2 separate regions of the Homo sapiens genome follow, and region 1 is linked to region 2. The links come from fine-mapping of genetic effects on plasma protein levels. A gene starts in region 2. The other region holds a variant in brackets. All regions are shown on one strand. Distances are from middle to middle.

Region 1 (8,329 bases), 120 kb before region 2:
GAGAGAGAGAGAGAAGGGAGGGAAAATAGAGGGTGGAAAGGAAGAGAAAGAGAGGAGGAAATGAAGAAATAAAACAAGCAAGCAAAGAGGGAGGAGAAGAGAAGGAAGGAGAAAGGAAGTAAGAGAAGAGAGGAATGAACAGAGAGCAAAACAGAGAAGACAGGAACAGACAAAAAGGAAAACCAGTAGAGGAAGAAGAAAAGAGAGAAGTACCCTGTTAAGGCTCTTTATCAGGAGTCTGTGGACGCACAGTGGATCTATATATTGAATTCAGGGCCTGTGAACTTGAATGAAGGAAAGCTGCTTGCTTATTTTCATTAACCTCTACCTTAGCTGTGCTATTTTCCTGGCAACAAACTGAAACATTGTAGTAGAACCTGTGACTTTGACACCAAGAGAAACCACAGATATTTTTCATATCATAATGGATATCTCAACCTATTTCTTATGCTCCTTAGTACTTTGAAATGTCAGCAATTATAAGAACTACTAGAAGACATTGTTTAATGAATTAATAAAAAGCACATAGATTAAGGCATCATAGATTATAACAGTATTTTGATAACTGCAGCTCAGTAATACCGTTTTCTTTAAAATTGTATATATTTTATTTTATACTTTTAAAAACATTATTCTGAGAAGGGGTTTGTAGGTTTTACCAAACTGTCAGAGAGGTCCCTGGCACAAAAAGTTTTAAAATCCTTTTCTCCAGAGGGAAACTGAGGCAAACGCCTATGTTTCATCAGCCTTGGCCTGACCCTACCCTGGTAGTGAAGCTGGAAGGTCCCAAGGCCGTCGTCCTGGAAGGTCCGGAAGTAGACGGAGATGGTGTTGGTGGGGCTTCGGATTACCTGCCCCTCCACCAGGAGTGTCTGGTTGGCCAGGACGGTCAGGGTAGGGCCGTCCACCCCGCGGATGGAGAGCAGTTCCCCATCGGACAGGTTCACACTCTTCACCTGGGAACAGGCAGAAGCAGACAGAGAGGAACTCTGAGTTGTGTTTGAGACAGAGCCTTCTAAGGTTGCAAAGAAGTCAGTGAAAAGTGGCCCAGGTACTGCTAGCCCCTGGTCAACGGGACCCCTGGGCCCCATGCCGAGCCCACAGGAGCCCTGGGAATATCAAGGTCCCCCTAATTTCCCCAAAAGCCAAGGGGATAGAGTGAAACCAAACTGCAAGGCAGAGGCATTGCAAGGGACTTGCAATGTGAGGCCCCCATTGCTGTGTCCTGTAAGAGGGGCCTTTGGCACAGGCCCTGGATGCTAGTGGGTGGGATAGATTATCCTGGAGCTGGTGAGTGGAGGCAGCAGTTGGATCAGCTTGTGCTTGAGATCCAATCTCCAGGGAGCCGGGAGAAGCATTCTACCAGAATGTATACTCTGCAAGGTTAGGGATTTCTCCATGCTGTTCAATGTTTCCAGTGCCTAGAATAGTACCTGGCACATATTAAGTGCTCAGAAAATATTTAAAAAAGATTGAATATATTCTTCCATTTTCTGCATAAATTGGTAAGTGAGGGGTGGGGGCCTCATTTCTAGGGCACTCTCTGGCCCATTCTCTTATTCTCCCCAGTGGTGGCTACAACTGCAGGACAATCAACCCCTATCTCAAAGAATCAGACACTTGCTTTGCCATTTACACTCTGTGGGATTTGAGAAGAAAGAAGCGAGATACTTTAGTTGTACGCAGGGAGGCTGAACAAATGGTATGTGCGCGTGTGTGTGTAAGGGAGAATTTAGTCAGGTCTCAATGCCTAATTTGAAGACTTACGCTTTTATGAGTAGGGCTTGGAACTTTAGTTTCTCTGCCTCTCCTCTAAACAGGGCAGGCCTTACCCACAAGCTCTTCTTCCTTCAGGCCCTATATCTTATCCTCTTTTCTCTTTGATGAACTCCTACTCATTCACCAAAGCCCCATTAAAATTGCCCTCCTCTATGAGACCTTCCCTGATTGCCAAGGAGTTTGCCTGTTCCTTTGCTGCGATTCTACAACAACCTCTAAAACACCAATTAGAGTCCCTACTAAATGGCATCCTACGTATTTCTCTTTTAGGGCAGGCATTGCATCAGTTTTTTACATCAACATATTCTCCTGTGTCAACAGCTTTGCCTGGTGCATTCTAATTGCTCAATGAATGAACTCTACTGTGCCTGGTAAAAGGCTCCACACAGTACTGGACACATACTGGGTCCAATACTCTTCATGACATGGAGGAAAGGGTTCTTAAGCACTATAATAATCTGGACTGCAGGTTTTCTCCAGTTTATTTTAATTCCATGAACAATTATTAAGGACCTACAATGTGCCACACACTTGTGCAAAGCTCTGGGGACTGCAAAGACTACAGGTTCTACTGCTGAGGGGCTTACCTTTTGTCTCTCTTATACAAGTAAAACAAAAACAAAAACAAAAAACCTTCCTAAGGTAAGGTCATACACCTGCCCCAGCTCAGAAACTTTTGATGGCTCTTTATTTCCCATGAGAAAAAGGAACACATTCAGGGTGATTAGCATACTGAAGATAATGGATAACATGCACTGCATGGTCGCGATTTCTGCTGGGCTCTGACCAAATGATTTCTCTCTCTCTCCTCCCTCTCTCTCTGCTGGGCTGTGGCCAAATGATCTCTGCATTGTCATATTTACTGCTCCCCCAAACTTTACAAAGCAGTAACATTATTCCTATTTTATTGATCGGGAAACTGAGGCTCAGAGAGGTGAAGTTCCTTGTTCAAAGTCACGCAGTTTTAACTGGAAGAGGTAGGACTTAAAACCCAGATGTTTGAGCATTATGCCACCCTGCTTTTCCTTTCTTACTGTATGGGCAAAAGTTTAAGAATAAAATGTCCTAATAACCAGAAAATGAAGGAAAGCAAGCAAGCAAGCAAGAAAGAAAGAAAGAAAGAAAGAAAGAGAAAGAGAAAGAAGCAAGAAAGCAGGAAGCAAGCAAGCAAGCAAGAAAGAAAGAAAGAAAGAGAAAGAGAAAGAAGCAAGAAAGCAGGAAGCAAGCAAGCAAGCAAGAAAGAAAGAGAAAGAGAAATAAGGAAGCAAGCAAGCAAGAAAGAATCAAATGAATCAGGTGGAGCTTCCGTGTGTGTGTGTGTGTGTGTGTGTGTGTGTGTGTGTTTATGCACGTGCATGCGTGTGTGTATGTGTGTGTGAGATAAGCAGAGTATCAAGGGATTTTCCTTCTGGGAAATACCTCAGAATTTGTCAGCATGTTCCCTCTATCCCCACAAGCTATTTTAGCAAAGCATTGAGTTAAGAACTCCTA[C/T]TCATTCGCCAAAACCCAGCTAAAGTTGGCCTGGTTGGGCAAAGACAGAACCAAACTAGTTAGCATAACAGTAAGCCTGACTCAGACAATCCTCCTGAGACTTCCTGCTAGACGAGGCAGCCTCTGTGAGGTACTCTCCTGGGGTTACCTGGAGCTCCACCCCATAGCCAGTGTAGACTGTCACGTTGTATGTGCACTCCAGAAAGTTGTTGAGGGGCAGCAGTGGGTAGTCGCTGGAGTCAATGTACCCCTCAGGATTGGAGAAGCTCACACTGCAGAGAGCTGGAAGGAAGGACTTTAATTAGGACACCAAAGACAACTTGGATGTAAGCTCAACCATGGGCTGTGGGGTGGAATGGGGGCTTTAGGGGAACCTGCATTTTGCTGTTCCCATCTGTCCTTCTGCTGTTAATTCCTCAGCTCCAGAATTGACATGATAATAAAAATAGCAATAATTGACACAGAATGATCACTTACTATATCCTGCTAGGCACCATTTTAGCTAGTCAACAGGGGTGACCCCACTTATTCTCATAGGGACTGATAATATTTCATCCCCAGTTTAGAGGGAAGTAAACAAAAGCTCAGAGAGGGGCCGAGCTCAAACAGCAAGCAGGATTTGGACCCAGAGCTCACGTGCTTTGAAGGGTGGCCACATTGCACTTGTCCAAAATCCATGTATGCTTGACAATTGGGGGTCCTTCTCCCATTTTAAAGATGGTAGAGAAGACTGGAACACAGAAGAGCATTTTATCAAGTCTAGAAAATACATGTAATGCTAAAAGCAAATGTGCTTTGAAAAGGCTAGTGGCTTTGAAGCAGGTTAAATGAAGAATTCCGTTCCAAGATGAAAAGGTTTTGAATCTTGCTCATTAGCTGTGTGACCTTTGGCAGGTTGCTTGGGGGTCTCAGGGTTTCAGTTGTCTCATCTTTAAAATGGGGATGTTGGCTGAGTGTCCTGGCTCATGCCTGTAATCCCAGTGCTTTGGGAGGCTGAGGTGGGAGGATTGCTTGAGCCCAGGAGTTCCCCAGCCTGGACAATAAGCAAGACCCCCTTTCTACAAAAAACAAAAAAATTAGCTGGACATCATAGTGCATGCTTGTAGTCCCAGCTACTCAAGAGGCTGAGGCAAGAGGATCACTTGAGCACAGGAGTTTGAGGCTGCAGTGAGCTATGATCGTGCCATGGCACTCCAGCCTGGGCGAAAGATCAAGACCCCTTTGCTAAAACAACCCCCCAAAACAACAAACAAATGAAATGAGGCTATTAATTCTGAGCCACAGGGCGAAGCTCATAGTCAGTGCTCAATGGACGGTAACTGATGGTGGGGCCGGGGCTTCTTGAGATTCCTCTACCCACATGCCCTGAACATAGTGAGTGCCTCATGGCTGTTTCAGGATGGCTTCAGGAGTTGGGGGCTGCATACCTGGTGCCTGCTCGGTGGTGATGACCGTGGTGGTGATAATGGTGGAGGTAGTGGTCTCCTGGCTCTCCTCTGAGGCTGACCCAGTCAGCTCATTCTCACCTTTGTCCATCAGGGCCATGGGGCTGGTGTCCTCCTGGGGGGCCTCCTGGGCCATGTCAGGCCCAGGCTCCCCGGGTTCTGGCCTCTGGGGGAGTGTGTGGGCCACATAGGGCTGCGAAGTGAAGGGGGAGATTTGCAGGGGTGCGGGTGTTGTAGGGACCGCACTCTCCTTTCGGTCCAGCCAAAGGGGCACTTCTGATGCCTCCTCGGAGGCCACGATGGGGTCCGGGTCCCCCGGTGGGCCAGGCTTCTCCGTGGAGGAGGAGAGGAGATCTAGGCCCTGGGACGCTGGCTGGGACCCTGCCCTTTGGACAGTGGCTGCGGAGGTGGCCTTGGGCCTCAGCTGCTTCCTGGCAGAGTTCACCTGCTTGAGCGAAGGCAGTTTCTTCTTGGGGGGCAAGGCGTGCTTGGGGCGGGCCTCCTCTGGAAGCAGCGGTGACAGGGCTGGGATGTCGTGATGTGCAGAGGGTGCGGTCCCATCCAGCACCAGCTCGCCCAGCACTTCCGCCGACTGTGAGGAACTGGGGGGCGCTGTTACCACTCTCTCTTCAGGGTGCTCTTTGCCAGGACTGCCTCTCTCCGGGGCTCCTGAGGGCAGGAGGTAAGGACCCAAAGGGCTAGCATCTCCCTCGGGAAGAGCATCTTGGAAGAGGAGAAAAGACACCAGTTAGTTTGGGGAGATTTAGGACCTTCACCTGCTGTCAGACTCTGAGGGTGGCCCTCCTAAGGGCGGTGCCCAAAGCTCGTCCGGCTGGCCTCTAAACCAACTTCTCCTTTCTCCCTCCCTCCCTTCCTTTCTTTTTTCTCCTCCTTCCCTCTCTCCCTCTTTCTCTTTTCTTCCTTCTTTTCCTCCCACCCTCCCTCCTTCCTTCTTTCCTTCCTCCTTCCTTCCTTCCTTCCTTTCTTTCTTTCTTTCCTCCCTCCCTCCTTCCTTTCCCCTTCCATTTTTTTCTTTCTTCCTTCCTCCTTCATTTTCTTCCTTCATTTCCTTCCTTCTTTCCTTCCATCCATCCTTCCTTCCTTCCTTCCTTCCTTCCTTCCTTCCTTCCTTCCTTCCTTCCTTCCTTCCTTTTCCTGAAGACTTGGGCTTGATCATGCCAGGACTGAGCTAAGCATTAGGAGTATAGAAACAAAAAGCACAGGGGCCTCACTGCCTGGTTGTATATGTACTGGGAAGGGGGATGGGAAAGTAGACACAATCATATTTGATATGATGAATGCTTGGAAAGAGAAAAGCTTGTGTGCTAAGAGAGCAGAGAGGACGGGCCCTAACCCCGTCTGCAGGACAGGCATGCCATGTACAGTTGGGCAGATTGTTCCCTGTACAAAGACATGCAGCTAAGAGGATGAGTGGGGATGGACACCAGGCCACACTCTCTTTTCTAAGCTGTGTGCTCTGGCTGGGCTTGGGGGATGGGGGAGGAGAGTTTTTTTAAATTTAAATTTTAATTTTAAGTTCTGGGGCCTATGTGCAGGATGTGCAGGTTTGTTATGTAGGTAAACATGTGCCATGGTGGTTTGCTGCACCTATCAACCCACGCTAGGTATTAAGCCCAGCATGCATTACCTATTTTTCCTAATGCTCTCCCCTCCCCCAACTCCACCCCGCAACAGGCCCCAGTGTGTGTTACTCCCCTCCCTGTGTCCATGTGTTCTCATTGTTCAACTCCCACTTATAAGTGAGAACATGTGGTGTTTGGTTTTCTGTTCCTGCCTTAGTTTGCTAGGGATAATGTCTTCCAGCTCCATCTATGTCCCTGCAAAGGACATGATTTTGTTTGTCTTTATGGCTGCATAGTATTCCATGGTGTACATGTACCACATTTTCTTTATCCAGTCTATCATTGATGGGCATTAGGTTGATTCCACGTCTTTGCTATTGTGAATAGTGCAGCAATGAACATGTGCATGCATGTATCTTTGTAACAGAATGATTTATATTCCTTTGGGTATATATGTAATGGGACCCAGTAATGGGATTGCTGAGTCAAATGCTATTTCTGGTTCCAGATCTTTGAGGAATCTCAGCACCATCTTCCACAATGGTTGAATTAATTTACATTCCCACCAACAGTGTAAAAGCAGGGTTGGGGGAGGTACATTTTAAACTGAAGGAATGTAAGAGTGACCTTGTGGGAGACACAGAAATGTTTTAGGATTCAGAGTCACGAGGCAGATTCAGAACAGAGGACTGTGTGAAGACCCATGGAGGCTTGGAGGCTGGGCAGAGGTGGGCACAAAAGAATTGCAAGGGGTTTTGGAGCACAAGTGGAGAGTACGGGGGATAAAGCTGGTAAGGTAGGGAGGCAGGGGCCAGGCCCTGGAGGGCCTTGTATACCTTGCTAACTTCTTGTAATTCATTTTGTTTTTTCTTGAGACGGATCTCACTATGGCTGGTTGCAAACTCCTGGGATCAAGTGATCCTCCCACCTTGGTCCCCATCCTTGCGATTTATTTTTGTCTGGAAGGTAAAACCATTTAGTCATTTTATTTTATTTTATTTTATTTATTTTTTTGAGACGGAGTCTCACTCTGTCGCCCAGGCTGGAGTGCAGTGGCGCGATCTCGGCTCACTGCAAGCTCCGCCTCCCGGGTTCACGCCATTCTCCTGCCTCAGCCTCCTGAGCAGCTGGGACCACAGGTGCGTGCCACCATGCCCAGCTAATTTTTTGTATTTTTTAGTAGAGACAGGGTTTCACCATGTTAGCCAGGATGGTCTCGATCTCCTGACCTCGTGATCCACCCGCCTCGGCCTCCCAAAGTGCTGGGATTACAGGCGTGAGCCACCGCGCCCGGCCCAATAGTCATTTTAAAGAAGGGCTGGCCCAGGCAGCTGTCTGGCAGAATGGTGCTGGAAACCAGCTTTGTTTGCTTTTTAAAGACCCAGTTCTGCCAATTGCTGGTTAATGACTTCACTCTCCAAGCCTCAGTTCCCTCAGCTGTCAAATGGGGCTATTATTTCCTATTTCCTGGGGTTGCCATCATTCAGCGAGTTGATGTATGCAAAGCACTTAGGACAGCGCCTCACCCGTAGTGAGTGCTTAGCAAATGCCAGCTGCCGTCATGGTTTTTACTCTTGTCATTGCAATCACAGCCCCTCGGCAGGAAACTGGAGCAATCAGAACATCCCCGTGAAGATGTCTAGATAGAGAGGAATTACATCACGGGGACAAAGGCCCTCGGACTGATAGCTGTCCTTGTCGATTTTCTGCAGGGAGACACTCACTCAGCTACAGTCTCCAGGCCCTCCAGTGCTGTCATTTAAATTTATTTCAGCAGTCGTTGGAGAGGCTCATTTACTTTCATGGAGTTGGCGGCGGTGGCTTAATCTATATAGACTGCAACAGTTTGCAACTGGCATCAACAAATGTTCCTGTTGTGTAACATTGATTACCAGCCAGTGTTCCTTCCAGGCCGCCAGTGATGCTGGGCCAGGAATGGGTATCTGGGAGCAGCGTGAGTGGATGGCATGAGGGCAGGTCAAGGTCATTCAGGCATCAGGCAGATTTCCTAGTCCAAGGTGGGGAGTAGTG
Region 2 (8,329 bases):
AATTAGGTTAAAATGAAATCATAAAGATAGGGCCCCCATGATAAAGATTAGTTCATTTCTAAGATGAGGAGACCCGGGCTCTCTGTCCCTCTTGGCCATATGAGAATTCAGCTAGAAAGTGGCTGTCTGCAAAGCAGAAAGAGAGATGACAGACACTCACCAGATACTGAGTCTGTTGGCGCCCTGAGCTTGGACTTCCCAGCCTCCAGAAATGTGAGAAATAAATTTCTGTTGTTTAAGCCACCCTATCTAAGGCATTTTTGTTATAGCAGGTTGAACTAAGACACATAGGAAGTGCTCGGTAAATTCAAATGAATGAATGAAAGGGCAAATATCTTTTTCCAGAAGACTTGCTTCTTATGTCTTCTTCCCAACCATTAACCTGCTCTCCTGCATCCGCTCGATCTCCAGTACCATGAACTCTGATTCCTGATGGTAATATTTAGGTTCAAAAAGAAACAGCATGAGAGTTTGGAAGGGAAGGGTGTCTGCACCAGGCAAGGTCAAATTCTCATCTGCCAAAGGTGAGAATACAGGTAACTGGAGTTACTCACTATGCCCTTCAACCCCTTTCTACTTTAGCCTGAATTATCCCAATATTTACACCAACATCTGCTTCATGCCAATCGCAGAGATTTGTTTTCTTGGTGTCTACTAATAGGAGCAGTTTGCCCTTTGGAAAGCAGGGAAAGAAAGAAATAAACATTACTTGAGCACCTACTCCGTGCCAGCTGCTTTTACATGCATTATGTAATCCCTGCAGCCATCCTTCCAGGCTGGTATCATCAGTCCTCCTTGCCCTGCCCCCATTCCTCAGATGGTGAAATGGGAGTTCAGATAAAATAGTTCTGCTGAAGGCCATGTGTTAATAGACAATGGAGCTGGCCTCTGGACCCAGGTCACTCTAATTATGGAGCTGCACTTCTTTTCCTGGACTTTATAAATCTAATTCCAGTGCCCAGTTCAGTCAAACTCCCCAGAACAGCCTTTCCACAGCCTCTTGGATGTTTTGCAATTTGGCTTCATGAAGAAAACTGCAAAAATACAAAAAGGGCAGTTGGATTGACATTTTCCTTGGAGCATTCTCCGGGCTTCTTTTTACCTTTTCTTTCTCTTTTTCACTGCGTGTGTCAAGGGTGACCAATAATTTTTCTCTGAGAAACAGTAATAAAATGTAGTAATCAGAAAGAGGGAGGGGAGAGATGATAGCAAGGCCTCCAGGCTGAGAGGAGCTCCATTCTGCTGACCTTTGGTGTTGCACACACCTGGTTGTTCACAGGTCAGAATTCCCCTCTCTTCTGCCCTTAGTCGCCAGCTAGATCTTGGAGCGCCCCTAGTGGAGGTCTGCACAGTAGGTATATTGGATAAATTGTCTCTGGACAGAATAGGAGGGCCAGTAAATCGAGCTCATTTGAACAGCTTGCAGGAATGGACTTGTAAGCAAAAATAAGAAAACAAGCCACTCTGATCAGAAAATATCCTTTTGCCCTGGAAGGGGAAGGAAAGGAATGTAACATTATTTTCTTAATACCTAACTGAGCCATATGAACACAAGATGAATCCCTCAAGCTTAGATACGGTGGCCCCTGGCAGGAACGGGCAAAACTCTATGGAAAATAATGCCAATCCATAATGAAAATAGTCTTTAAGTGAATCTAACCACAACACACGTTAGAGACTGGGGAAGCAGCAAATTTGAGCCTTATTGAGCAATACTGAATTTGCCTTATTAATTCAAGAGAAAAAGAAAAGAAATTATTCTTAGGCTTTGCAGTCTTTGCATGTAGTTACAATTATTCCCCATGTGCATATCTGAGACAATAAGGAGGCTCTTCAAAAACAAGTTATACTTTATACTTATTCATGCCTTACAGCGAAATGGCCCAGAGAACCACGTGACCTGCATCAGAATGTAGCAACAAGTCCCTTTTGAGTATTTACAAATCCCCTCACTTCACCGCAAGCAGAAGAACTAGTTCGCAACAACGAGTTAGGTGAATGGTTCTCCATCTGACATTAGTGGATGTTGGGCTCTACATTAAAAATAGAATTTATTGTGGAAGGTCAATTGTCTCCAAATGCACCATCAGACTCGGCAATGCTCATTGGCCAGTATCACTCCCTCCTTATGACTCAGAGTCAGAACCACACACTTATTAATGAGCTTTCTGAAGTAGCACATCAATTGACTTTAATTTGGTGGTGACCTGAAGTCAATTTAAAAAATATGCTGGCTAGCCATGGTGTTGAGCAGTTGGAAAAATAGTATGAAATGTCTTAAAAATTAAAACACACACATGTCTCCCCCTGCTCTTACAATGTGTTTGCAGCCCGTGAAGGAAACAGAATAGGAAATCCTTGTCTTAGATGACAATTCAATACGTGCCATTAAGACAATTTTTTTTTCCCTGCAAGGTGGTGTATTGGAGAGTGGAGTTCTCAGAGGTAGAACTGCTTTAGAAAATCCAGTAAGCTGCTGGGTAGATTCAGGTTCTTTTTATATGTGTGTTAGTCACAACACAGATTCAAAAGGGGGTGGGGGAGGGAGAGCTGGACTCAGTTCAAGGCCACCAAGCCATTGTTAGAAAGAGACAGCTAATTAAGAAAGGCCATGCTGTGGTGGAAACGATTTGTTTAAACCAAATCTCTTTCCCTATCTTTCCCAGAGAAACTGTCCAGACCTGGTGTAAATTGTGGACATTATTGCCCCATAAAAAAGGGGTGGGGGTTCTTCAATGATATGCTTTGTTAAACAAAAGGTGATGAACAATTTCCTTTGCTCTGCACTCTGGGCTCTACATTTAAAAAGACGGGGAGATGGGGGATAAAATGCCTGATTTATGCTGAGGGGGGCACTCCAGGCCACCGGGAAGGGTTGAAGGGAAAGGGACCCAGAGCCAGGGCCCATGGAGCTGAGAGCTGTCCAGGGCCTTTGGTGCTGAAAGCAGGTGCGCGCGCTGGGGGTCCAGAACTCCCCGGAGAAGAACACCGCCTGTCCCCCAACTCCGAGTCAAGACGGTGCAAATGACAGAGGCGGAGCCCCAGATAAGCATAGTGCCTGCGCTCCCTCTGTCTTCAGCCTGGGCAGACCCTGCAGCTGTCTGCTTTTTTACACGTGAGGAGCGCATTTCTGGGACCTTGCAAGAAGGCCGGGTCCTGTGGCCAACTAACCCTCCCATTGATTTTCGGGTCTCCTAGGTGCCTGAGAAAACCCCCGAAGCTCTGAGGGTTAGCTTTGGGTGAGTTAGGCGTTGCACCCCTCTCTCTATCTGGCCCTCTCCCCCACCCATAACTTTTCCTGGGGTACCTTACCGGGGTGGAGAGAGGGTATGGTTCCAGGTCTGAGAAAGAGGAGCTGTCATTCTCTGCTAAATTTGGGCCCCTCTTCCCCTTCAACAAACACGTGGTAGATGAAACTAACACCCCTCACCCCCCATTCCTAACAGTGATCAGAGATGCTAGGCAGTAGGGGAGAGAGTAGAGGGGAGCCCGTTCAGGTTCCCAACTGCTAACTAACATCTCTTCTCCCTCCCCTACCAAGTTCTCAGAGCCCTCAGCCCCCTCCACCGGCCTCTAGCGAAAGCCACACCCAAGTCCGGTATCCTGACGCTTGGCTGAGATCGATCCAGGAACACAGACCCTCGGGGTAGCCTGAACCAAAGGAGTCAAGGGTTTCTGTGGTGTCGGGGGGAGCGGCAAATGCACTGTTTGAGTCTAGTCCTCAGTTGCAGGGTGGGTCAGCTTCTCACCCCCCTTCCTGTCCTCTCCCGGAGAGGAAGATAATTATCTGGCACCTAGCCCCGGGTGCGGTTGCAGAGAAGCGCCGGGAATTTGGGGTTTGGAGGCGACCCCACTCCAAGGAGAACCTCTTTGGCTGCAAAGGAGAATCAGCCCCGCAGCCGGGGAAGACCGAAAGGGAGCCCGCAGCCGAAGCAGGGAAGCGCCCGAGTCCTTCAACACATCCCCGCCTCCACACTCCCATCAGCCCGGGCCAAGGGGACGTGCGGTTCCTAGCCCCGATTTTGGACAGCCACCACCGCTTCCCATCCCGGCGGGTGGTGCCTGAGTCGCCCTGGTCAGCCCCGACCCCTGGCTGCCCCGCTCTCCCGGCAACTTTGCCCCCTGCCCGCCCCGCCCCTCGGGGCGCTTACCTCGCTCCAGCGCTGCCGCCGGGCTCCCCAGGAGCAGAGCGAGGAACAGCGAGATCCCGCGGAGTCCCGCGGCGGGCGGCCGGGCCGCGGGCATCGTGGCTGCAGGGGGCGCGGAGCCGCTGGCTGTGGGGCGGGCGGACGGCGAGGGAGCTGGGGAAGGAGGGCGGCGGTGAGCGAGAAAGGGGAAGCGGGAGCGAGGGAGGAGGCCGCGGGCCGGGGCAGCTTCCGGAGCCCCCTGGGCGGACGCGCGCTCAGCCCCGCGGTCGCTCTGGCCGAGCTGCGCCGGGCGCGGGCGGGCGAGTGAGGAGGAGCCGGCGAGCGAGCGAACGAGCGTGGAGCGAGCGGGAGGAGGGAGGGGGCTGGGGCCGAGTCTGTGCCGAGCGAGTGCAGGGAGGGAGGGGGCGGGCGAGCGGGCAGTGAGCTGGAGGGGCCGCGGCGGCGCCGGGGGTGCCAGCCGCCTCCTCTGGCCGCCGGCCCGTCGGCCCTGCAAAGTTTAACGCCAATTCCCCTTGCGTCCTGGGAGCCGAGCGTTTTCTCTCCCTGCTGACGCTCCCAGCAGCTCTGCCTGGCCAGGCCAGGCTGGAGAGCACCCGGACCATTTTCCAGACGGTGAGATGGAGCCCTGGAAACCGAGCTTATGAGCAGCCCGGAGCTTTCCATTGCCTGCCCAGCCTTCCAGATACATCCCAGTTCCAGTTCTTTCCAGAGCCCTCTGGGATCCAGCCAGCCTGCTTCCCCGCCAGGGCCTCACTGCTTCCAAAGTGAGTCCCCATAACCTAGAAAGTCTGTAACTCTGTGGATCTGGTGACAGCTGTGAATCTACTAGAACACTACACATAGCCACAAAATCGTGCATCTAACACGAGGGGGTCTGGACCCCTCTGAAGCCCAATCACGAACTCTAAATTAAGATCCACCTCCACTTTTTAATCTGAGCCCTGTCTCCCATAACCCCACTGCCGGCAGGGCACTAGCGCTGCGAGGCTTCCTCTCAGGTCAGCCGCTTGCCTCTTCCTGTACCCGCTTCCCTATCTGAGCAGGACTACAAGGCCCACCTCTGCAGCATTCTTGCCCAGGCCTGATTCTCAAGCAAAGTCTTTTCTCCACAAATAGAGGTAGTGAGGGACAATCAATGAGGGAGATAAACAGATACTTGGGGACAGACATTGGCAGAGAGCTAGGTGGGGACAAGCTTATGCACAGTCCTGGAGACTGACTGTCTCTCCCTGCGTAGCCTTGGCAGACCGGTCAGGCTTTACAGGCCTCTCACCCAATTTAGAAGCTGTCCTCCTCCCCCTACCCTACCTTGCCATACTATCTACACACTGCAGCCTGAACAGGCAGAGGGAGCAGATGGAGAGAAGGTTGCAGGCAGCAACAGGGGGAGGAATATGTCTTTAGCAGCGTGGTGGAGCCGGGAGTCCCTAGAAAGAATGGGTGGGGGAGGTGAACACTGGATGGAGGAGGGAAGGAGAAGCACTCTGGCCCAGGGTTTCAGAAGACGCTCCACACCCAGAGCTTCCCCATTTACTCACTCAAACAATGCTCTTTTACAGGCCACTGACTATAGGCCCAGACCTGCCTCAGGCTTTGGGGGACAGAGAGCCCCCCCATAAAATCCTATCTTCAGCTGCAAGAGGTTTCCATTCCTGGCAGTAAACCCAACTGGCTTTTATAAAGAAGGTGGCTGAGGCAGGGATGCAGGAGTGCTGATTTCTCCTTTGGAGAAGATGAAGCACTCCATGCTTTACTGTATGAGGCTGCCAGCTCTCTGTGGAATGACCTTGCCTGTTTGTGGCTATACGCTCAGGCTCTGTATAGTATAATGCAGGCATGCAGCGGGTGCTCAGTGAGACTTGTTCAATGGAAACCTAAAGAAGCAAGGAAGATGGAGGAGGAGGGGAAAGGGAAGAAAGCGAGCGAGAGAAAAACGAAGAGGTAGTTTAGCTCCATACTTGGAGGCAAGGAAACTATTTTTAATTCCTAGGTTCAGGGGTACTTGTGCAGGTTTGTTATGTGTGCAAACTTGTGTCATGGGAGTTTGTTGTACAGATGATTTCACCAACCAGGTATTAAGCCTGGTACTCAATAGTAATTTTTTTCTGATCCTCTCCCTCCTCCTGCCTTCCACCCTCTGGTAGGCCTCTGTGTGTGTTGTTCCCCTCTATGTGTCTGTGTGCTCTCATCATTTAGCTCCCACCTATAAGTGAGAACTTGTGATATTTGGTTTTCTGTTCCTGCATTAGTGTGCTAAGGATAATGGTCTCCAGCTCCATTCATGTTTTTGCAAAGAACATGATCTCATTCTTTTTTATGACTGCATAGTATTCCATGGTGTATATGTACCGTATATATGCTCATTCATTGATGAGCATTTAGGTTGATTCCATGTCTTTGCTCTTGTGAATAGTGCTGCAATGAACATACATGGGCATGTGTCTTTATAATAGAACAATTTATATTCCTTTGGGTATATACCCAGTAATGTCAGACAACCTACAGAATGGGAGAAAAATTTTACAAACTATGCATCTGCAAAAGTCTAATATCCAGCATCTATAAGGAACTTAAACAAATTTACAGGAAAAAAACCAAACAACCCAACTGAGAAGGAAACTATTGTGTAAAGAATCCACTGTTTGCCAGGTGCTGTCCCACACCGAGCATGGTCTCTCATTTCAATTTCATAATCTTCCTGAAAACGAGGTGTGGTTATTGCCATCTGAAAGATAAGTATCTGATTTTTTATGGGGGGTCCCAACCCAGCCAAGGTCACTCAGTCAGGAAGCGGTGGGATTTGGCAGATTCAAGGGCAGCCCTGACTACAGAGCCAGAACCCATTTCACCTTCACAGCCTACTTCCCAGAAATTTGGTGGCTGCCTCTGTGCTATGATTTGGTTGCTACCTGCTGAAGCTTCAACCTCTCATCACTACCAGAAGGACCACATCACTAAAAGTCCATCAATGGGGTTACTCACTTTGGTAAGTACATTGAACTTCTAGATCATTGCTTGCATGCAGGTGTCTTATGTGGAAGAAGTGACACTGTAAACCATTAACCCATTGAACATATGGACCGTGATTTACTCATTCCATTTGCTGGCTAAAACAAGGCACAGAGAAAAGTCTTGAGGAAATGAGACACAGACCTGATTATCTGAGATTGTGATGTTGGGAACATAAAGTGATTATTTAGGAGCAGTATCAAGACTATTTTTGGAAGAAGAAATAGCATAATAGAAATAGAATTCTGAAAGGGACTAGAACAGTTTGCAGATGAAAATCTGCAATCACAATTTTGATAGCCATTTTACAGATGAGGAAACTGAGGGCCAGGGAGGCAAAGTAACTTGCTCGATATCACACACTTGGTTTACCTTTTACCTTTTACTGTTTCCATGGCAGTGATGTTGTGGTCTGTCTAATAGGGCACATCCTGCCTAGATTCTGGTGTCAGGGTGAGCTTCCTCCTACCCAATGCCACCTGGGGAGATAATTTTAGCTTCTCTGCTGATTAGATGATGTGTGCCTACAATTCTATTCACCTTATATTTTGCCATGTGATAAACAGAGCATCAGCTCTTATGCGGTTAAAATTAGTACAGTGGTGACAAAGGGTTATATCCTAGCCTTGCCTCTTCCTTATAGGATGACAAGGGCAAGTTACTTAACCTCTCTGAGCTTTATTTTCCTCTTCTGAGAAGTAGGGATAAAAATAACACTTATCACATGGAGTGATTGACATAAATGGATAATAATATCCTCGTGGATGAGGGGATATTATGGCACTTATTTCCTAGGGTTATAGAGAAGATCCCATGAACTGATGGACTAAAGGCTAATGCTGTGTGATATTAAGTGAGTCACCAGTCTCTCTGGGACTCTGTTTCCTTATTCATCTACCCACCTATCTACACACCCACCTATTTGTCCATGTATTTACTAGTCCATGCATCCATCCAGCAATTTATCTATCCCTCTACCTACCCTTCCTTCTTTCCTCCCTTTCTGTCTTCTTTTCTTCCTTCCCTCCTCCCTTCCATTCATCCATTCATCTACCCATCCATCCACTCAACCACCCACCCACTCACCCATCTGTCCATCTATCTACAAATACTGTTTGAGCATTTACTATTTATTGAATGGCTACCACGTGGCAAGCAGTGCTGAGTGCTGT

Which allele goes with the higher level. Positions count from the first base shown, and alleles are read on the strand shown. Strength reflects both the effect of a copy and how common the allele is.
In carriers of allele T in region 1, the plasma level of the protein whose gene starts at base 4,453 in region 2 tends to be lower than with C alone (weak association).

The links. A credible set is the group of variants that fine-mapping cannot tell apart. PIP is the posterior inclusion probability: the model's chance that the variant is causal. The UK Biobank Pharma Proteomics Project read protein levels with antibody pairs (Olink). The fine-mapping took linkage between variants from a reference panel, not from the people measured, so its PIPs are less certain.
Region 1: its variant is the best candidate, but not a certain one, in a credible set for the plasma level of the SEZ6L protein (UK Biobank, PIP 0.63).

The regions. Positions count from the first base shown.
Region 1 is chr22:26,289,515-26,297,843 of GRCh38, reverse strand. SEZ6L (seizure related 6 homolog like) reads right to left here. Exons shown (of 17, transcript NM_021115.5): 2 at 4,698-5,438; 3 at 3,419-3,552; 4 at 764-956. Among named protein-coding and RNA genes, the nearest start is that of SEZ6L-AS1, 47 kb to the right of the region's middle. The variant C/T (reference allele first, on the strand shown) is at 3,271.
Region 2 is chr22:26,165,586-26,173,914 of GRCh38, reverse strand. SEZ6L (seizure related 6 homolog like) reads right to left here and starts at 4,453. Exons shown (of 17, transcript NM_021115.5): 1 at 4,152-4,453. The coding sequence starts at 4,245. It overlaps LOC105372971 (a long non-coding RNA gene), which reads left to right and starts at 4,681. Exons shown (of 6, transcript NR_188586.1): 1 at 4,681-4,912; 2 at 6,986-7,134. RefSeq lists an enhancer at 2,535-3,474 and a silencer at 4,301-4,430.